Linked DNA regions of Homo sapiens: regions 1 and 2 are each linked to region 3. Evidence: fine-mapped expression QTL. A gene starts in region 3. Each other region holds a variant in brackets. All regions are shown on one strand. Distances are between the middles of the regions.

What was found. PIP is the estimated chance that this variant, and not a neighbour inherited with it, causes the effect.
Region 1: its variant is the best candidate, but not a certain one, in a credible set for the expression of CD200R1 in monocytes (Kim-Hellmuth 2017, PIP 0.56).
Region 2: its variant is the best candidate, but not a certain one, in a credible set for the expression of CD200R1 in whole blood (TOPMed, PIP 0.72).

The regions. Positions count from the first base shown.
Region 1 is chr3:112,923,409-112,930,813 of GRCh38, reverse strand. It overlaps CD200R1 (CD200 receptor 1), which reads left to right. Exons shown (of 8, transcript NM_138806.4): 4 at 1,307-1,624; 5 at 1,750-1,998; 6 at 5,621-5,729; 7 at 6,279-6,324; 8 at 7,015-7,405. The coding sequence ends at 7,137. Among named protein-coding and RNA genes, the nearest start is that of CD200R1, 48 kb to the left of the region's middle. The variant G/A (reference allele first, on the strand shown) is at 2,962.
Region 2 is chr3:113,014,745-113,022,149 of GRCh38, reverse strand. RMP64 (ribonuclease MRP subunit p64) reads left to right here and starts at 2,479. Exons shown (of 9, transcript NM_015412.4): 1 at 2,479-2,608; 2 at 4,548-4,702. The coding sequence starts at 2,503. It overlaps NEPRO-AS1 (NEPRO antisense RNA 1), which reads right to left and starts at 2,632. Exons shown (of 3, transcript NR_186663.1): 1 at 2,444-2,632. RefSeq lists a silencer at 2,691-2,800 and an enhancer at 2,961-3,030. The variant C/T (reference allele first, on the strand shown) is at 3,529.
Region 3 is chr3:112,970,956-112,978,360 of GRCh38, reverse strand. CD200R1 (CD200 receptor 1) reads left to right here and starts at 3,258. Exons shown (of 8, transcript NM_138806.4): 1 at 3,258-3,570. The coding sequence starts at 3,504.

The sequences.
Region 1 (7,405 bases), 48 kb after region 3:
GTACTTATTAATTTGCTGTGAAATGCAAGGGCTAGAGTACAAACCATGTAAGAGACAGGTGACACCAAAACAGGATAGGAAAGATGTTAAATGCAGGGTTTAGCAAAAACATCCTTCACCCACATAAAGGTTTGCCCCTCTATAGCTGATTCTGCTTATGCTATAGTGATGAAATCACTGACACTTACCTTTGTTAGAGGTGAGTAGTGACAAATACTTTGGTGGACTAATCACCTCTCAGTAAACCCTTACCAAGTCACTGACACATTGTGTCGATTTATGGGATGCATGAGGTTCTACGTTGGAAGATGCTTGTAGGATGCAGGGCTTAATTTTTCCTTTAAATGATGGACAACAGGGATCAACTTACGCCTTTAGTGTTGATAATTGGATTGAATATACAGAAATAAAATCTGTGAGCTAAGTTCACAGCTGAACTATCTGAAAGTGTATGTGTGACTAAATAGGAAGGAATGAAAACTCATCCAAAGGCTACATTTGATAATGTCATAAATTTGCAATAAAATATTTTTAATAAAAAATGTCTAAAGGGAAATAAATCGTTTTTTAAAAATTATATATCACACTATATTTTCACAAGAAATAAATATTTCTAAGCATCTCTTATCACAGGGCATTATCATTTTTCATTTTTATGGGATGGCTCAACTGGTGGAATAATAGTTTTTTTTTTTTTAAAGATCTGTGGGTTTCACTGACTTTGTGATTCTTTTTAAAAAAAAGAACTTAAAAAAATTTCTAGCTAGTTCAACCCAAATGCCATATTAGTTACTTTAAAAGAAAGCACTATATATTAATACATACCACATTTATGTTTGTCTGAAACAAAAACCTTAGAGATAGACTTTTTTGTGCTCACCAAAGCTGAGGAGGAGACAGCCACATCACTAATTGTTCCATTTTCTTTCCTGTGGCACATACATTGTATGATAAAGGCAATAGTCTCCACCACCTAAAGATTAGATGTAGAACATTGCCTTTGTTGTTTAATTTACAATTCTCTTTGTTTCTAGATATTAAAACTTCTCCATTAATATAAAAAATACTTTATTATATATCATATTTCTAATAATACATAATACAGGAGAAAATTGGTTAATCTCTAGATTGGGTTCAATATATTATTTATATTTTGAGAATTTTAATTTTTTATGAAGGTCTAATATTTTTGGAATAAGATCACCAACAAAGTTATGTTCTAGTGTAACTTCATATGTTGTGGATAAATGTAACACATGAAGTTCTTTATCAAGCTTTTCTTTTATCATTCTCTTTTCATGTCCAGTTAACACTTCATGGCCTGTAAAGATGGCTACAAATGCTGTGCTTTGTTGCCCTCCTATCGCATTAAGAAATTTGATCATAATAACATGGGAAATAATCCTGAGAGGCCAGCCTTCCTGCACAAAAGCCTACAAGAAAGAAACAAATGAGACCAAGGAAACCAACTGTACTGATGAGAGAATAACCTGGGTCTCCAGACCTGATCAGAATTCGGACCTTCAGATTCGTACCGTGGCCATCACTCATGACGGGTATTACAGATGCATAATGGTAACACCTGATGGGAATTTCCATCGTGGATATCACCTCCAAGTGTTAGGTAAGGAGCATCATATATTGAGGTATTTCACATCACCAGATTTGTGACGGAAACAAATGTCTCTCTGAATTCCATATGCTTTATGTGAAAACCGAAGCATTTTTTTCCCTCTTTCCTCTCTGCAGTTACACCTGAAGTGACCCTGTTTCAAAACAGGAATAGAACTGCAGTATGCAAGGCAGTTGCAGGGAAGCCAGCTGCGCATATCTCCTGGATCCCAGAGGGCGATTGTGCCACTAAGCAAGAATACTGGAGCAATGGCACAGTGACTGTTAAGAGTACATGCCACTGGGAGGTCCACAATGTGTCTACCGTGACCTGCCACGTCTCCCATTTGACTGGCAACAAGAGTCTGTACATAGAGCTACTTCCTGGTCAGTAATTCTTTTAGTTTTATTTTTTATTTTTTTCCATTCTTTTAAAAGAGTTAAGAAAAAAAAAGATGTGCAAATATATTTTGTTCGAGGATGCTCTCCCCACTCTTCATTTTTATCTCTTCCCTGACCAAAATAAAGAGATGAGTTGAGGAGAATAGTACAGACATTTGTTGTAAAAAGCCCTTTTTTAGAATGCAGTTTAATTCTACTATTAATGTTCACTTCTATGCTAGTAGTTAATTAGCATGAGTAGTATACTTTTAAAAATAATACTTATGGCTTATTGAAAGATAAAGTATACTTTGAAGCATGTAATTATGGTTCTATTAGAAGGATACATTTACTCAAAGTTGCTTTTATGAATTTTTAGTTTGTTGTAATTTTGTTTTCTGGACTTTTCATCATTGAATTTCTTAAATGTCTTATAATAACATCTATGATTCATTTAATCACTGTTTAGTTTATTTACTCTCTGCTCTCATCCTACTCTCATTTCTTGTTATTTAAAAACTATTAAATATCAACAAACATATTTAAAGTGCAATTGTTCTGTAAGGCTTCCTGAAAAACATTAGCTCTACCCCTGTCTTTCCAACCCAATTGCCATCTCCATTAAACTCCCCACAGGTAGGTACTTTCAAATTTTCCAGTGTTTCTTCTGGTAATTAGTGCCATTTTTATACAACATGCTCATACTGCTATTTCTTACTGTATCAAATTTAGACATTATGTAATCACAACTTCTTATGGTAGATGAGGATTTCACATTACCTTCTTCCTTTCCTTCAAACTTTAGTTGAGGTAATGCAATTTTTCATTAAATAGCCTATGTTCCCATCAATTTGAATATTTAAGTACTGTTAAGTGCTGAATCAAGAAATACACTCATGCTTTCTCTTTCAAATGACTTTTTTTCCTTGGACTTCATAAGTGCTTTACCTTTTTTGTTTCCTTAAGAAT[G/A]TATGTACCTATCGTGAACTATCACTAAGCCTATTGACAAAACTAGAGAACCCCTTAGTAATATTTTCTACATGGTCAGATTTATTAGGTAATCTGTTAGTTCTATTTTTTCTCAAAGTCATTCCTTCTTGAGTTTTGGTATGTGTTTGGTCTAATCTCTCCTGATTGGCCTCTAGATCTGCTGTACAGCTATTGTCCTGGACACTCTCATTGCCTCAGTCCTCTACTTAGCCTGTGTCTATTTAATCTGAGTTTCTTCTGTCTTCTATACATTTGTTTGTTTTTAACTCTTTCTTTCATATATGAGACTTTTCTTCACTCTTTGGTAATCCTTGGGTATGGATTCATTTTGAAGTGAGTACTATATGAGCTACTTGGAAGCTCAACTAGTTAATGGTTGGATTTGTCAACTAGTTAGCTTCAGTTCAGTGAAAAGAAGCTGTGATTTTTTAATAACTAGAGATTTGTTATGTATCTGAAGGCCTTTTCTCTGGGGCTGTTCAGGCTCTGCAGAAATTAACTCAGCAGTTTCTGGCCTTGGAGAGATAAGCCTGACTACCAGTGTTTGGGAAAGGAGGGAGCAATATGTGTATGTGTGTGAGTGTGCATGTGAGTGTGCCACTGTTGAGAATCAGACTTCCTTTTATACCTCTCTTCAGTCTGGTATTTCATTCTCACCCTCCCTGATGTCTGGATCCTTGACTTTGGAGTCTCTCCAGTTCATCTTCTTTGGACCAATCTGCCAATCTCCCCTTTTTCTGCTAGTTGGGAAAGGTGTGCTACATAAAATGGAGCAGGAGACAAGGGAACCTGCCTGTTCTCAAGACAAAATTTCAAAGAAGCTCTCAACTTTTAGCCCCACACTTCACCCCTCCACATACTTCTTCTTCTATATTTGATGCTTCCTACTCTAGAGTTTTCCTGGAGTTTTGTGTATACTAAGGTTTGTATTTATTCTATGTTGTAAATCATTAGCGAGTTTTCTATTCATTTCTCACTTAAAAACAGTTCGAAATCTTTCATCTGTTCTTGTCTTCATCCTCTTCTCTTTGTCTTTGCAGATCTACACTAAAAAAAAAATTATTTTTACCAACATTTTAGTAAGTTTTAATGAGGGAGAAGAGAAAATCTCATGTGTTGAAACCACCTTTATTTATATCTATCATTTAAGTCATATGTGTAGGTTTTTTTGAGTTTAGCAATATTTACTGAAAAGAGAAGTTGTGCCTTGGTTATGTGTGAAATATCACCTTTCATATTACTATATGATGTCAGATTTATAGTGTCTCAGAATTGAAGGGAAATTCTCATTCAAATTCCTATGTACAGCAGGGATCTCCTTGATGTCTTCCTTGCACGGTGGATCTTCAGCTTCTGCTAGTACAAATTTAATGAGAGAGAGCTTAGTAGTTTGAAAGCAAGGGTTTTAAAAAATGTTGTTTTAAACAATGTAACCAAACATTTAATTTTCATATAACATATGGAGAAATTCAGTATTTAAAAACATCAACTGTGGAAGAAAGGTGGAAGGACCAGAGGCCAGCCTGCTCAGTCTCCACTTCATCTCCTCTGCTGCCCCTGAGCTATATTCATGCAACACCAGGAGCATAGTTTGCAAATCGTTGCCTCTCAGGCTGGCAATTCCTTGGTTGATTTGCACGCTTGTCAGATAGAGTTTTGTATTGCTGCCAGCAGCTAATAAATAAAGTTCCTGCTGTGTATTCATTTCAGTTTCAATGCCCTGGGAGAAAGATGACTTCAGAATTAGGGTTACTTTTCCAAGTATCTTCCTTACAATTGCCCATTTAGTTGGAGGGGAGAAACACTCTGCTATAACAGAGTGGTAGGAATTCACCACCAATGAATCTTTAAAGCAACAAAACCCTGATATAAGGTGATGTCTTGCTGAAAACTCTGGAGTCTGTATTGAAAAAGCAGTTTTATTTTAATAATTCTCAAACTATTAATGGGGCAGAAGTGTTGAAAATGAAACTACAGATATGAATTTCATGTATTGTGAGACATTATTGAATGATCTATATAGATAGATATGGATATAAATATAGATAACTTTATTTTTAGTAGACATTAATTTTTAGAGCAGTTTTAGGTTCACCGCAAAATTGAGTGGAAAGTACAGAAATTTCCCATATAAGCCCTGCCTTCGCCCATGTCCAACCTCTCCCACCTACACCTGCACCAGAGTGTTACATTTATTAGAACTGTTGAACCTCCATTGATACAACATTACCACCCAAAGTCCATACTTTACATTAGAGTTCATTCTTGGTGTTGTACATTCCATGGGTTTGGACAAATGTGTAATGACATGTATCCACCAGTACAGTATTATATGGAACAGTTTTATTGTCCTACACAATCCTCCTTGCTCTTTCTATTCCTCCCTCCTTCCTCACCACCAGATAATCAATAATTTATTGACTATTCCCCTAGTTTTATCTTTTCCGTAATGTCTTACAATTGGAATCATACAATATGTAACATTTCCAGATTGGCATGTTTCACTTAGTAACATACATTTGAAATTCCTCTATGTCTTTTTATGGTTTGATAGCTCATTTCTTTTTAACATTGAATAATAAGATAGTACATTATTTGGATTGTACCACATTTGAACCATATATTTTTGTGTCTATAGTTCCAGGTGCCAAAAAATCAGCAAAATTATATATTCCATATATCATCCTTACTATTATTATTTTGACCATCGTGGGATTCATTTGGTTGTTGAAAGTCAATGGCTGCAGGTATTGACTAATGAATGTTTTTTTCTTCTTCAGCTTTATTAGGCTAGAAAAGAGTCAGAAATATGGAACTGACCGTATTGGGTATATTAGGATGTTAACATCAAATCTCCCATAATCAAATCTTGAAGGTGTTAGATAGACTTGGACTACTTTGAATGATGAGAGAGACTTTGCTAGGTTGCTTTGGCATAGAAGCATGGAAAATTAGGCCATTTAGGGTAGGATCTTGGGAGAGAAAGTGCATGTTAATTTTCACATTTGGGTAAATAATTACAATTCCTTCATGCACCAAAGAGGAGATGTTACATGCATTCAATTGCATCAAGCTTCTATTGCATAATTTCACTTTTTCAAAATCCGGAATATTCTTAGTTGGGGATATTAACCACGAGCAGTATTCTTCACTTATTTCTAGTAGTTTCTTTCTGATTTATTATGGCTTCTATCAAAATTAAACACAATTGTCAATAGTATACTGTCTTATTTTCCCATTTTCGATCTAAACAATGATGTTTCCTCCATTCACTTCAATTTATTTTATTTTTATAGAAAATATAAATTGAATAAAACAGAATCTACTCCAGTTGTTGAGGAGGTAAGATAAGATAAAAAAGACTAATTGCAAACTTAAGCCAATAGTCTGAAAATCTAGCAACATAATTTGTAGTTTGTATCAATATTAGTGTTTCAGTTGAAAAACTAAAACAGTTCTGACTTGCAGTGCTTATATGTGTGATTACTTTGTTAATTATCTATCAAATACTATTTATACATCATCACTCTGAACCACATTTTCACTTCATGAACTATATCCTAACACATATGATGTTTGGCTCCTTTAGACTGTAATCTTTTGAGGAAATGAATTGGTGTTTCTTGTCACCAATTTGAAAGCATCTCTAATTCCTGACTTTTCCTTTTCAATACTATCATTATTTTTCTCTTACACAAACTTAAAACATATCCTGCTCCTTCATCTCTTATTATAAGTAGCTTACTAAGTCTCCAAAGCTCTCCTTTGGAGTACTCATATCACTTCATTCATCTCCATTCCTACTTGCACAGAGCCATTATCTCCACACAGAGACTTATGTAGTTAACAAATACTTTTTGATAAAATGTTAGAACAAATCCTGCTCTTATGTTTATATAGGCCCAGAAACACAATTATAAGCACTCTTGAGCACCTGTTAGAAATACTAAAGCTATGGGCAACTGTTACAAAAATACAGATAGTCTCTATGATGATTTTTTGAATTGATTTTAACTTTGAGTTCTTTCTTAGGATGAAATGCAGCCCTATGCCAGCTACACAGAGAAGAACAATCCTCTCTATGATACTACAAACAAGGTGAAGGCATCTGAGGCATTACAAAGTGAAGTTGACACAGACCTCCATACTTTATAAGTTGTTGGACTCTAGTACCAAGAAACAACAACAAACGAGATACATTATAATTACTGTCTGATTTTCTTACAGTTCTAGAATGAAGACTTATATTGAAATTAGGTTTTCCAAGGTTCTTAGAAGACATTTTAATGGATTCTCATTCATACCCTTGTATAATTGGAATTTTTGATTCTTAGCTGCTACCAGCTAGTTCTCTGAAGAACTGATGTTATTACAAAGAAAATACATGCCCATGACCAAATATTCAAATTGTGCAGGACAGTAA
Region 2 (7,405 bases), 44 kb before region 3:
TTAACTGCCTGGGGAGTTCCTATTCATCCTTCAAAAGACTCTATTCAAGCATCATCCAACCTCATATACAGCCAGTAAATATCTACTGAGGCCCTACTATATGCCAGGCTCTGAACTAAGCATTGAGATAGAAAGACCAGTTAGCTATGTCAATGGTAGTTCTCGCTTTCAGTAGGTTCATATGCCATTGGAGAAATAGACATGAAAGTAAACAAAGAAATACAATAAAGCGAGGTAAATTCTGTGAGAGAGGCTGTGGTAGGCTGAATAAAGATCCCTCCACCTCCCACCCAAAGATGTTCACATGCTAATTTCCATAATCTGTAAATATGTTACCTTGCACTGAGAAGGGATTTTGTAGCTATATAACCTTGAGATTTCAGCTGCTTGAGATTTCAGCACCCCAGCATTTTTGTGTGTGTGTGTGTGTGTGTGTGTGCATGAAATAATGAAAATTTTGAACAGGCCCTTGCTTGCTTGTACATGTTAACCACTCGCTTTTTGCCCAGTATTCCTTGTTCCCACAATGTAATTATAAACTGCTGATGTACTGTTTCTTTGTCAAGCAGAAGGAGATAACTTCAGGGTCATAAGAATAGTTTGCAGAAGGAATGAATTCCTGGAAGGACATTGCAACCAGCTGCCATGTACATACGGCTGCACAAGGTGTTACCTGAAATGGAAGAAACACAGACTTTTCCCTTGGATTCCTTGAAACTCCCTCTCCATTACTCTCTAGCTCCATAAAAACTCCCTGCTTCTTTTTTGTTACTGTGGATCTGAGAGATCTTGCTCTCTTGCCCTCTAACTTTGGTCAAATCGAATAAATATTTCTCTGTCTCCAAGCACCAGTATCTCAATATTTGGCATCAGCTGCCCATCGGGTACATGAGCCTGAATTTGGAGTTCTAAAACAGATGTGATTAAGTTAAAGATTCTGAGATGGAGTGACTATCCTGATTATCTTGATGGGCTCAATGTAATCACAAGGGTGTTTTTAAGAGGGAGGCAGGCAGGAGGGTGAGAGAGACAGAGGAAGAGGAGGAGACTGAAAAATGTCATGCTGACAATGAAGGTGGAGGATAGTGAAATGAGCCAAGGAATGAAGGCAGCCTCTAGAAGCTGGAAAAGGAAAGGAAATGAATTCTTCCCTAGAGATTCCGGAAGGAACCAGCCCTGCCAACTTCAGTCCATTGAAATTAATTTTGGACTTCTGACCTCCAGAAATGTAAAATAACTTCTACTTATTTCAAGCCATTAGGTTTGTCGTAATTGGTTACAGCAGCAATAGAAAACTAATACATAGGCCAACATAGGGCACTGTGGTAACACATTAAAGGGGCCTCTGTATCAAGTTATGGAGTGAGGACGGGGTGTTTAGGAAGAATTACCCCAAGTGACGACCCCAGAGCTGAGGAAAGGAGATTGTGTTTCCGAGGATGACCCAGGTAGAGTAGGTAGATGTGTAAAGGCGCACAGAAAGAGCATGGAAAGTGTTTCAATAAAGTAAGACTGCTTGCATGAAATAGTAGTAATAACATCAACAATATTAACTATGGTAAATGTTCATTGTTTGTATGCCAGGAGTGCCTTGGCATTTTACAAGTCTGTGAGATTGATACTATTATTATCATCTTCATTTTACCCACAGGGATACTAAGGTCTGGAGGAGGAGGTAAGTAAATTTCCTGAGATCACCGAGCTAGTAAACAGCAAAGCTAGAACTAGAACCTTGGCAGTCTGTTTCCAAAACTCACTGTTTTTCTAATACGTTACTGTGGGAGTGTTAAGAACTTAAGGGGGCATTAGCATGGCTGAGGATAAATGAATTATTAGAAAGATATTAATGAGGTAAGGATCACTAGAGCTTGGAATATGATCTTGTCTTGGAGACTGACAAAAGTGGGAATGACTGACAGGTGTCTTCCAAGTTTCTTTGATGTGATCTCGGTTTTGCTGTGGTTCAAGACATAAAGGAGCCTTCCTTTACCACTCAAAGCAAATCACTGCTTCTTCGCTACAAATTCCACACCTTGCACAAACCTCTTCATTTCATTTCTTCCTTTTTCCCCTAATGTCTGAGGCAGAGTTGGGGGTAAAAGCACCAACTCAATTCTGGGCCTCATTTTCCATATTTGTAAAATGCCTAGAAGTATTTAACAGTTCCAAACTTGGTTGTGCTTCCGAATCCCCTGCGCTAAGTTTAAACAAAACGCAGATTCCTCATCGCATTCTCAGAGATTCTGTTGGTTAGTATTGGGATGGGGCCTTTTTTCCCCCATGATTCTACGCGGCCACGTGTTGGTAACCAATATACAGATGACTGGGTCCTTCCCAGTCCCACGCGTTTACTCGATGAAGGCAGCCTCCCGCCGGGCTCCTGGCCCCGCCCGAGCCCCACCCCCTGCTCCCTTCCGGCCCGGACTGGGTCCCATCGCCCCACCTCCGGTCGCTGGACGTGCTCTCGCGTAGCTCCGCCTTTCGTAAGTCCCCCCGCCTCGCATGATGGCTGCGGTGCCGCCGGGCCTGGAGCCGTGGAACCGTGTGAGAATCCCTAAGGCGGGGAACCGCAGCGCAGTGACAGTGCAGAACCCCGGCGCGGCCCTTGGTGAGTGAGGCGCCGGGCGAGGATGGGGGAACGTTTCCGGGGGAGGCCGCCAGGCCCAGCCGGCGCATGTGGGCGGGGGTGGTACCGGGACTTCCCGGCCCGGGGGACGCTGGGAAGGGGCGCGGGGCACGTAGGGGTCGAGCGGTCCCAGCACTTTGCTGGTGTAGCTTGTAGGGCCTCTGGCTTCGCATTCCTTCATTGAACCAGCTGTGCTAACCCAGGGCTTGGCTGGAGAGATGAAAGACCAAGGCTCAGCCGTGCGCTGAGGGGGCGGAGAGAGGTGGACTCAGCTGGTGCCGGGGAACAGTGCTGCCTGGGAACCCTTGCTCACCCGGGTCTTCGGAGTCTTGTTTACCCTTCCGTCCATTTCCCCTTTCCTTCTTTTTCCTGTACCCGAGGAGCGGTGGACGTCACCTAAGCACTGGGACTCAAACTGCAATCTTTTCGGACCTCTATCTGCTTATCTGTGAAATGGAGTTAGTCCTCCTACTCCTCACAGGGGCGTTGGGAATATCTAATGATGTAATTTAGGAGACAGTGCGCTGTAAACGACGGTGTTTTGCCACCTAAATGGGTGGTATTTGTTAGGGTGAAGGGCATATAGTAGGTAGGAGCCTGGCGCAGGAGCCAGGTTGTTTGGGTTTGAATACTAGCTCTACCCTTTGCTGGAGCTTGAAGGAGTCATTGAACCTTTCTGTGCCTCACTGATCTCACTTTCAAATGGAGATAAAAGCACCTTCCTCATAGGGCTGTTTGGGGGGATGAAAGAGTTGATAATGTAGAGAAAGCATTTGGAACACTGCCTGGCATGGTAAATGAACACTCAAATGGAAGCTGTTATGAATATTAAATACGTAGCTCCGGGGCCCAAGGGAGAGAATACAGTCATGGGTTCTTTGTTTCCGGTTGGGCTGGTAAAG[C/T]CCTTTCCTCATCCCTCTTTTCACTAGAGACAAACTAAAAACCATGGCTTTAAGCTGCAAAAAGCCTAAAACAAAACAGAACAGAACAACAAAATAAGGCGGGTTGGACAAGCTTGACTTAGATCATCACATCCCCTTTCCCATATATCCATCCTACACACTTTACAGATTATCCCATCTATCCTTCCTACACACTTTACAGATTAATCTTCCCTCTTTCTCTATTCAAAAATTCTTTAACAACTCCTATTAGGCCTGGGAAATTCACCAACTCACTACCCATCCCCGAGGCAGCCCATTCTGTCTTCAGGTAGTTGTTGGGACAGTAAGAAAATTCTTGTTAGGTAGCAACCAGCCTTTACTTCCATTTAGAATGCTAGTGCTGCCTTTAGAGCCATAAATAACACATGAACTACATCTTAGGGACTTCTACAGATTTTCAGACTAGGAAGCATCTGCTGATGAGCACCCGGTGTTCATCAAATAATACGATTTCCAGTTACTGTGGTGGTTTTTCTTTTCTGAATATGTTTGTGTCTCTCATAAAGTGATATCCAAACACAGAAGCCTTGATTTTGAAGACTGTGAATTTATTCATTCTGTCTTGCTTTCGGGCATAGCGACATGGGGAGTTAGAGAGTTATTACACATGTTGTGACATGTGCCCTACCTTCAAGGTGGGGGTTAAGTGTACACATGAGGCGTAAGTGTACACCAAATGACTGACAGCAAAGTATTCATATGAAAGATTATTAAACCATGATAAAATGCAATGCAAAGATACAGCTTCTTGTTTTACAGATGTTCTCTTAATGATTTCCTGGACTTTATATCATCTGTTACCATTTTCCAACTTCTCTTATACTTAGAATCCTTACGTTCTTACAGTTGAGACTGATTACATTAGTTTTTGATTCCTTTAAAACAAATAAGGAAAGATGCTTTTTTTAGTGTGTTTTTAATATAATATACTTACTGTAGAAATACATACTAAATCTTATTAGATGTCTCTGCTTCAGACCTTTGCATTGCAGCTGTAATTAAAGAATGCCATCTCGTCATACTGTCGCTGAAGAGCCAAACCTTAGATGCAGAAACAGATGTGTTATGTGCAGTCCTTTACAGCAATCACAACAGAATGGGCCGCCACAAACCCCATTTGGCCCTCAAACAGGTGAGGAAGCCCGGTAGGTGAGACCCAACCTGTTCACTTGAAAATGTAGATCACACTGCCACTTACTATATTGCTATTTATGGAAATCTCGTGGAAATCTCAGTAAATTACTTGTGTTTTATAGGCCTATAGCCCACAGTTACATGTGCACTTTCTTTTTTTTTCCTAAAAGCATTTCAGCATTTCAAAAAGTAATTTTTGTTAGAAAAGAAGTATGTTTAGATTCTTTCCCAGTCTTGTTTCTAATAGGCAAGTAAACATTTTCTTCATTATATACAATCTATAACAACAGTGCCTTTGCCCAGCTCAAAGATAAAGTGATTTGAGCAAGACAAAATGTTGGACATTAAGAAACAGTTCCCTGGGCATAATCAGAATGCTAAAATTATTTTTAAAAAAACTTGTCTACTTATTATGGGGTACATAATCTAATTGGTGGTATGTTAGAGTAAATGGGTACATAGCAAGTTGTGGTGTAAACTGGTTTCATGTAATGTTTGGAGCTTAAGACAAAATTGGGCCCTCCAGCTCAGGGGCTATACCATAGAGTAGAGCCTCTCTTAAGCTGGCTTCCTGATATGCTCATTCATTCATTCACTTAATTCTGCAAGTATTTTCTGGAAGTTCAGAAGGCTATCCATTGTGTGACAGGGCTACCTTGCAAGTGTTTTTGAACTTTCTGTGTGCCAGGCATTCTGCTTAGTGCTGTGTATAGAGGAGTGAAAAAGGTAGACACAGTCTCTAACCTTATAGATGCATGCTTTCTGGTTAGTTTTCTACCCCTAGTACTTAAAGCAAACAGGGTGAAGATTTCATCAAAGAAAGATCTGGGACCATGGTCTTTCCCTAAATTTTCCATTCTAGGGTGGCTTTTATCTTTTTCGGAGTCTTTTTGATCCAAAAGCAAGCTTGCTAACCCTCAAAGTGAATATATTTCTCCTTCTAGCTTCTGGGTTGTGAATAATCACCCCGTCATCAAAATTTGGCATTCTCTAGTCTCTCTCTCTTACGTAGCTCTCCCATCCAGGCAGTCCATAAGACAAAACTTCCTCTGCATCTGGTCCCCTCTTCAGTTCTGGCTGCCATTTTCCTTTCTTAGACCTTGTCAACTTTTAGTTGTCTTACTATCATAACTGATGTTTCCTCCTTCAGCTTTTCCTAAGTTCTGGCATATTCTAAATATTAAAACCAGGTTAATCATCTGAAAACACAACTTTGATTTTTAGTCGTTCTCCATTGTGTCCTGAGTAAAGACCAAACTTCTTAGTTTGGCTTACGAGATCTGTGATCTGGCCTCTTCAGTCTTCTTAGTTCGGGCTTCTCTCTTGCGTTCAGATAGATTATATTCCAGCCAACCTGGACTCAACACACCTGCATGCTCACTATGTTTGTTCCTGCTTCTGAGTCTGCTTACCTGGTCCTGTATGTTTAGAATGCCCAGCCTCACCATGTCTGCCTGTTAAAGGCCTTCCTATCCTCTAAGTCCCATTTTAAGCCTTTCTGGCAGTGATAATCTGTGTTATAGTAATCTCATTTTAAGTTGTATTTTTCTGATTATTACTGAAGTTGCTTTTTTTTTTTTTTTTTTAAATTCTTGGCTATTTGGGCCTCCTCTTTGTACTTATAGCATTTAATATAGTCTGTGTCATGGTAAAGTTATTTGTGTATATATTTTATATTCCATGTGATCCCTGAAGTAGGAAACATGTTTTATGCTTATGTTACTGCTGCAGCTGCTATTACCACTTCTACTACTGCCTTACAACTGCTTAATATTTCACAGTTTTCAGAGAACTTTCATGTAAGTACTAGAATTGGCCTGTCTCTAAACATTCCCCTAAATGGAACACAGAAAGTAGTTTTGATTCCTGTTCTGTGGAGTACATGTAGGGCATGCTGGCAGATAAAGTGGTATTAGAAACTTCCCTATCTCTAGTTGCTAAAAATCTAGTAGTAAAAATAGGAAGACATGTAAAATATTTAATTAAATGCTAAAATAAAAACAGACCCTATTTAAAATTGCAATCTTCTCAGCACTCCCTCTCTGCCTTATTTGTCTTCATAGCACTTAACACCACCTGCCATTGATTGACTGCCTTTCTCTCCCAGCTATAATGTAAGCTCCACAAGGGCAATGTATTTTGTCCCTTTTGTTTACCACCATAATCCAGTTCTTAGAACAGTGTTCAGTAAGCACTCAATAGGATTTTTAATTTTTTTTAAAAAAAGTAAGAGCCATGCATGGTACAAAATGCTGTAGGAATTCTGTAGTCCTCAGGAATAACACACAAAGGGCAGCATGGGACTGCATCTAGACAGATACAAAAATTTGGATGGGCATTGATACTGGCAACAAGAGTATCTTGCCAGAGCTGCAAATATACTTCTAGAAATTGAACCAAGGTTATGGATTCTGTTTTAACAGCGGTTTTCAAGAATAATGGAGGGAACAATCCTTAAATTCTTTAGGGTCAGCTCCTATCTTTTTCAGTTTTCAAGTCTGGACACCATCCTTTGAGGGAGGTATTGACAAACCCAGATGGTAAAGCACTTGGAAAACATAGTAAGTGAACTGCGGTTCAAAAGAGAAAAAAAACCCAAGAGAGAGAAGGGAGAAAGAGAGAAGATGCAGAGGAACATAAGAACAAGCTTCATCTAATCAAAGAATATATTTGTTCAGTGATTAAAGCCAATCGTTTTCCT
Region 3 (7,405 bases):
TACCTCTGTGAAATTGGCATGTTACCACTTGGCTAGCAGTAGGACAGAGTAGATTGAGGGAATTAGGACTAAGTGTTTCGCTAGCATATTTGTGTGAGCGTGTGTGTGTGTGTTATGTTTGTGTGTGCACACATGCAAGTGTATAGAAGGGTAAGTCAGGCCAGATATCTAAGCCAGAGAGTTCACCAAAAGTAACAGTGACAAGGCAAGTAGTTATTGGCCCATTTTGCAAGAATGCACATCCAGAAAATTCAGCTATGGTAGGAAGGGCAGGCAGGTGCTGAAGTTCTCGGCAGTCAAGACTCAAATATAAGAGGTGAATGAGTCGGCAATGGTACTGGGGAGCAAAGGGTCCCGGGAACGAGAAGTCAGGAATAAAAGTCCATAGAATCTTTGCAGTAAGTATTCAAGAGCCATGCAAATCTTCTACATAATGGGGAGGAATCCCAAGAGGAAGGCTGCAACACTTCATCTTAAATGGTTTCAGTGTGGCTAAGTCTGAATCTGACATTGGAGAGAAAGATATACACCTGATTGGAAGAAGTTTACTTCAACAACATTTATAGTTATTACATCAATTTTCAGTTTATTGCAATTGATAAATTGAGTAAACCAGCCATGCTGGTTTGGGGGCATTATGGCCTAAAGTAGTTCTAATTTACTAAAGTTTCTCTGTCTTTTTGTTTTGGCTACAACATTAACTGGCATTACATTGTCCTGTTTGTTTCTCTTATGCTATGATTCTTAACTGGTATTATTGAAGGAGAATTGGAAAACTGGTAGAGTAAAAGGTTTGGGTTTCTGGTTTGAATGACACCTGTTTCTTGATCCTTTTTCACTCTTTTGCTTTGCTTCCTGGGTCCTGTGCCCAAGGGCCGCAACCAGGGAGAATTTGGGGCCTTTAGATTTTTTAGAGAGGTGTATTTACCAGACACATCTTTCTCTTATTATACTGACTTTCATGGCATGTCTTTAGTGGATGATTATGTTAACAAACTTTTAGTCCCTTTATTGTTTTAAACATTCATGGTCCATAAAAGGTAGAAGGTGGGAGTTGAGAGGTTACAGGCATGTGATTTGGGGGTGGAGAGGATGAGGGACCAGGGAGAGAAACTGTCATCCTGCCAAATCTATTTAGTGAATTTTATGGTTTTTGATACCCATCACTTGATTCTTAAACTGCTGATTGCAGATTGTGGTCTGACCTCAGGTGAGTGCATTGGAGTGTGTCTATGAAAGTTGTTGCCTGAAATTTCAAAGTAGAGGAGTTGAGTGAAAAGAACACAGGGCTACGAAATATAACACATTTTATTCCCAGCCGTGCCAATAAGTTGTTTTGAGGCCACAGGCCATTTAGCCCTTCTGTGGTTTAGTTTTGGCTATGTCATTGAGCAGATATTAAAATAAATGATCTCCAAGAATTTTTGATGACATGAGAAAAAGCTAATGTCAATATAATATAAACAGATACAGACTTGAGTAAGAAACTTTCCCAGTATCACTGGACTAGTAATTGCACAACAGAGACTTAACCCTATGTCTATCTGTATCCTAAGCGAGTGTGAATTTTAACTTTAACTTCTCTCTGCTCACTGCAACCTCTGCCTCCTGGGTTCAAGCGATTCTCATGCCTCAGCCTCCCAAGTAGCTGGGACTACAGATGAGTGCCATCACACCTGGCTAATTTTTTTTTTTTTTTTTAAGTAGAGATGGAGTTTGGAGTTTTGTCATGTTGCCCAGGCTGGTCTCGAACTCCTGAGCTCAGGCAATCTGCCCGCCTCGGCCTCCCAGTGTCCTAAGATTACAGACATGAGCCACTACTCCCGGCCAACTTTCACTTCTATGTAGTGGAAAACCAGAATATTATCTGTATTTTAAATGATGTATTCTCACTAATTTTCCGACACCTGGTGAAACATTAGACAGAAGAGAAGACATTTTTGTTTTGGTCTTCCCATTGTCACAGCTCATACCCTTAAGTGTTCCATGCCCTCAAGGATCTGGTTTCACTGTCTTCATCAAATTAATTAACTGGAAAAAAAAGCTTGAGAAGGGGAAGGGGGGAAATATTTATAATGTTTGGCAAGAAGGAAGATGAAACTGCTAACTGAGAAAAAAAATGCATGCTGTTTAATCTTTTTCCTGTTTGCAATGTTTTCTTCCCCTTCCTGTACAGTTTTGCCTTGGGGCAGAAAATTCTCAGCACATAGAAGATTTTTCCCTCTCTCAGACATAACTTAAAAGCATAGTAACATAGTAACTAGCAACAGTAAGGAAGAGGTTTTTTTGTTGTTGTTGTTGTTTTTTTTTTTTGGTTAGGGGGAGTCTGAATTCCAGATGTGTGGCAACTAAGAGATGGGTGATTATTTGTAATTTGGTTAAAATGATCAGTCTAATTTTCCAAAGGTGAAACTGAATGGCAATAAGTACTGAGTTCTGATAAACAGAATGCCCTCACCCCCAACAAGGTAGATACCTATGTCCGAATTACCGAAACCTGTGAATGTTACCTTGTGTGGCAAAAAGGACTTTGCAGATGTGATTAAATTAAGATCTTGAAATTAGATCATGTTGGATTATTTGGGTGGACCAAAAATAATCACAAGGTCTTTATAAAAGGGAGGCATAAGGGTCACAGTCAGAGAAGATGTGACAGTGGACCAGAGGTCCGAATGATGTAGCTGCAAGCCAAGAAATGCAGGCATTCTCAAATCGCTGGAAAAGGCAGGGAGCAAATTCTGCCCGAGCCTCCAGATGGAGTGCAGCCCTTCCAACACCTTGATTTTAGTCCCCTAAGATCCATTTCAGACTTCTGATCACCAGAACTGTAAGATAATAAATGTTGTGTTGTGTTAAGCCACTGAGTTTGTGGTAATTTCTTACAGTAGCAATAGGAAACTAATACACATATGATGTTTACAGGGTTGTGTGTTGACTCCCATTATAGACAGGAATTTCACACAATAATTTTCAAGAAAACATATTGTATTCCAGACTCAAATACTAAGGCCGTAAAGCTCTTCAACCTGGAGAAAGCCTCTAAAAGTCATCATAATTGGGAAATTTACAAGGATGGGCCAAAGTAGATCAATATTCTGTTTTACTTTTTGGTGCAAGTTTAGACAAATCTGTTTATCTTGGACACGTTCAATGCCTTACTGTAAAGTTTGTCTGTGTACAGCAGAAGTGAGAGGAGAACCAATGAGCTGAGAGATAATTCAATCAATCTGCTTCCTCCGTCTTTGCTTCAGGGCTTCATACAGGAAATCTATTGCTGTGTCAAGTTCCAGAGAAAAGCTTCTGTTCGTCCAAGTTACTAACCAGGCTAAACCACATAGACGTGAAGGAAGGGGCTAGAAGGAAGGGAGTGCCCCACTGTTGATGGGGTAAGAGGATCCTGTACTGAGAAGTTGACCAGAGAGGGTCTCACCATGCGCACAGTTCCTTCTGTACCTGTGTGGAGGAAAAGTACTGAGTGAAGGGCAGAAAAAGAGAAAACAGAAATGCTCTGCCCTTGGAGAACTGCTAACCTAGGGCTACTGTTGATTTTGACTATCTTCTTAGTGGCCGGTAAGTTTGAATTCTCTTTGGGAGAACAGTGAGAAACCTGGTCTCAGCTCTTCCTGAGTTTATTTTTTGTCTTTCTTCTGGGGCAATACAAATCAATTGCAATAATAAATATAGGGGGTTGCTAAATATGGGTTACTCCCATATCTAGTTTACTTTATTATCCTTTTTTCCGGTGTCTTGCTTGTTGTACTTTGTATCCTACTACAATATACAGATCTCTATAATTTGTCTTACTGTCCATTTCCTTATTTCCTCCTGTTTTTTGAACAAGGCAGGATAAATCAAATACATACTAGCAGCAATCAAAGTCAGTTAGGTTCTCTTTATCTTATTCTCTTCCCCAACCCCCTTTTTTGAGACAGGGTCTTGCTCTGTTGCCCAGGCTGGAGTGCAGTGGTGCAATCGTAGCTCACTGCAGCCTGTAACTCCAGGTCTCAAGCAGTCCTCCCACTCAGCCTCCTGAGTGTCTAGGACTACAGATATGCGCCACTATGCTTGGCTAATTTTTAAAATTTTTGGTAGAGATAGAGTCTTGCTATATTGTCCATGCTGGTCTTGAGCTCCTGTCTTCAAGCAATTCTCCCACCTCAGACTCCCAAAGCATTGGGATTACAGGCATGAGCCACTGCACCCAGCCTCTTCTCTCTTAATTTTTTTTTTTAAGATAAGAACGCTAACTCATTTAGGTCCACATTGCCAGTGGCATAGATTAGGACAGTTTATTGCTTTCTGTCACTTTCGATGATTAGGCACTTCAAAAATATAATATGCCTACAGTTACAGTGGTGCGTCTGTGATGTATGTCTGTATTTATCTTCAAGATGTGTGGGCTGTAAGAGACACTACGAGTTAGAGAACAGACTCTTCAACATCTAGGTTCCTATAGAAGTTATAGAGAACTTGGGCCACTGTGGGGGTGTCCTGGTTTCACTGTAGAAGGTTGGTAGGAGTTGGTGTGGGAGGGAGTTTTCAGGTTTCACTTTTGGTAGACAGAGCAGCTGCAAGGGAAGAGTGTAGTTGGTTTTAAATGTTATAATTTGATAATTGAAAGAAGAAAAGGTATTTTTCCTCATTTCTGAATGACTTTAAAATGCTGCTTATCTTCCACAAAAAATCTTCTTTCCACATGTTAATCTTACTAGTGAACACATGCAAAATAACTACACTCTTTGACTGCACCTTTCTATTGAGAATTTTCACATGCTTTTTTCCCTTTGATCTGCACAGCAACCCAGTGAAGTAGACATGGAAGACACCTCTCCATTTTACAAAGGTAGAAATGGAGGCGTAGAGAGGTGAAATGATTTGGCCAAGGTTAGATATGACTAGTATGTGCCAGAATCACAATCAGTAATGATATACATCAGTAAGCACCACTAAACATTTGAGTGGGCAATTTTCCTCATTATTTAACCATTGTGCTTTTCACTGAAGAGCATCAGTGAAAAAAGTCAAGCCAATACTTAGTTTTAGCCTTAATAGACTGTTACTCACCTAAAAAGTCAAGTGATCTGAATCTTTCAGTAGTTCAGATCTTGTTGTAGAAAGCTCTTATAGCAACTTGTGTAGGACCCAGCTTGGCTGGGGCAGCCAGATAGGCAAGGAGCTGTTTATGTCAAATTGCACTGTTACTCCTGGGAAAAGGAAAAAAAATGATTAAAACATAATTTGTAATTTTCAATTTTAAAGGTTGAAAGGTTTAAATTTTAAAACTATTTCTGAACACAACTAGGAAAGACTACATATAGCAGATCTATGAAGTCTATGCTTATGTTATTGTAAAGTTATTAAATGTTTAAAATCAGGATTTAAAAAAGCATATTACTTTACATGTAGTGATTTGGTGTGATAGGTTAACCATGACATGATTTAGAATAATGAGAAGCATACCACTTGGGGAAATATGACTTTATGTCTTTATTGCTAAAACTGCTATGTTATTAATACTGCCAAACAGAAAGAACTCGCTTTGTACAAGGTAAATTCACAAAGGAACAAGGGAGCTAATGACTTAAATGTAAAACATAGTATTCATTTGGTTTCCCTATTTTCTTTTTGTCTACTTATTTGCTTATAACTTCAAGCAGCTTGGCAGTTAGTAAACAAGATTTATCCAGAAAAAACCTAAGGGGAAAAATAAAAACAACCTAAATTGTGTACATCAGAGCTATATTCCCAGCCTTGTACCTGGTCCCCTTCCCGGACACTCCCCGTACCCTGTGCCACTTCTTCCTCCTTTTTTTTAGCCCTATTGTCTTCTAGATTTTTGTGTGTGTGTTCAAATTATATTTTGGTGTTCCAATTAAAATTATTCCATCTTTTATAAAAGTTACTGATTTTGTGATTATGAGTTACTAAAAAGGAACCCTTCACTTCTTTCCTTCTTTGGGCTAATTTTTATTCATTTATTGTTGTCTTCCACTAGAGGACAGGCAGTAACAAGAAGAGGAGATAAAAATCAAGACAGGGCTCTAAGGTAGCTTTGGCAGATTTGCAAACAGTGGAAAAAGATTCAAAACAATTGTGCAAAAGAAGGGTTTTGTCCTTATTAATAACTTTAGTCCTATCTTCCTTTTCTAGTTTGCATATTTGTGAATTTACATGTTATAATAATTTATAGGTGTGTTTTTCTCTAAATGTTCATGCTTAAGCAATTAATAAATTAATTAAAAGTCCTTATTAATGTCTGTGTGTGTGTGTAGAATAGTGCCTAAAAGTTATTAGTAATCTAAATTAGAAAGACAAAGGTAAGATGAAACAATTGGTGAACATTTAAAATCAGTAAATCTTGAAATTGTATATGAAACTAGTACAAATCTAAAGGAGGGAGAAATTACAGTGGGTTGGAGTTGTGGAGGATTTTATGGAGATGGGTCTTGAGCTAGGCTTTGAATGACAGGTTTGGATAAATGGGGAAATGCAGAGAAAGGAATTGGAAGGATGGGATGTGTAGCATGTGCAAATGCAAGGTGCTTCAGAGAGAGAAAGAGCTGTAGCTTGCAGGAACAGAGGTTGTGTGTTAAATAATAGTAGGAAATAAGGCTGGATTTTGGGGGTCCTTAATAGCTAAATTAAAGAACCTGGGTATTAGTCAGTAGACAATGAGGAACCACCTGTTCTTTGGTGAACAGGAAAATTTATAATTAAGTAGGATTTTTTGGAGAATAATGTGGTAACAGTGTCCCATTGAGTGGCGGTGGCACTAGGTAAAATATTTATTTTGAAACATGAGTCAAGAGCTTCTGCCCTGGGGTTCTCATTTGAAAAAAGTTCTGTGATGCCGCTGAGGTATATATGTGACTGAGAAGGGAGTTTCGTTGTGGAGGAAGATATTAAATTCAGTATAGGAAGGGAGGACAAGTAGGAGGAAAATTCCTACAGATACTTGGAAATACAGTCAGCCCTCTGTATTGCATCCCTGGATTCAACCAACTTCAGTTGAAAATATAAAGGGAAAAAATAGATGATTTCATTAGTACTGAACATGTACAGATTTTGTTCTTGTCATTTCCTAAATAATTCAATATAATAGCTACTTATGTATTATTTACATTGTATTAGGTTTTATAGCAATCTAGAGATGATTGAAAGTATGTGAGAGATTGTACATAGGTTATATGAAATACTACACCATTTTATATTAGGGATTTGAGCATCCTTGAATTTTGCCATCTCTGGGGGTCTAGAACTAATCCCCCAAGGACACTGAGGGATGACTGTATAGAAAACTCTAGTGTTTGTGAATCATTCATGAAGTAGATGATCCATCCCACGAACAGAATAAACATATGGACAAAAACAATAGAATAAGCACTAGAGATATTTGGATTTGGGC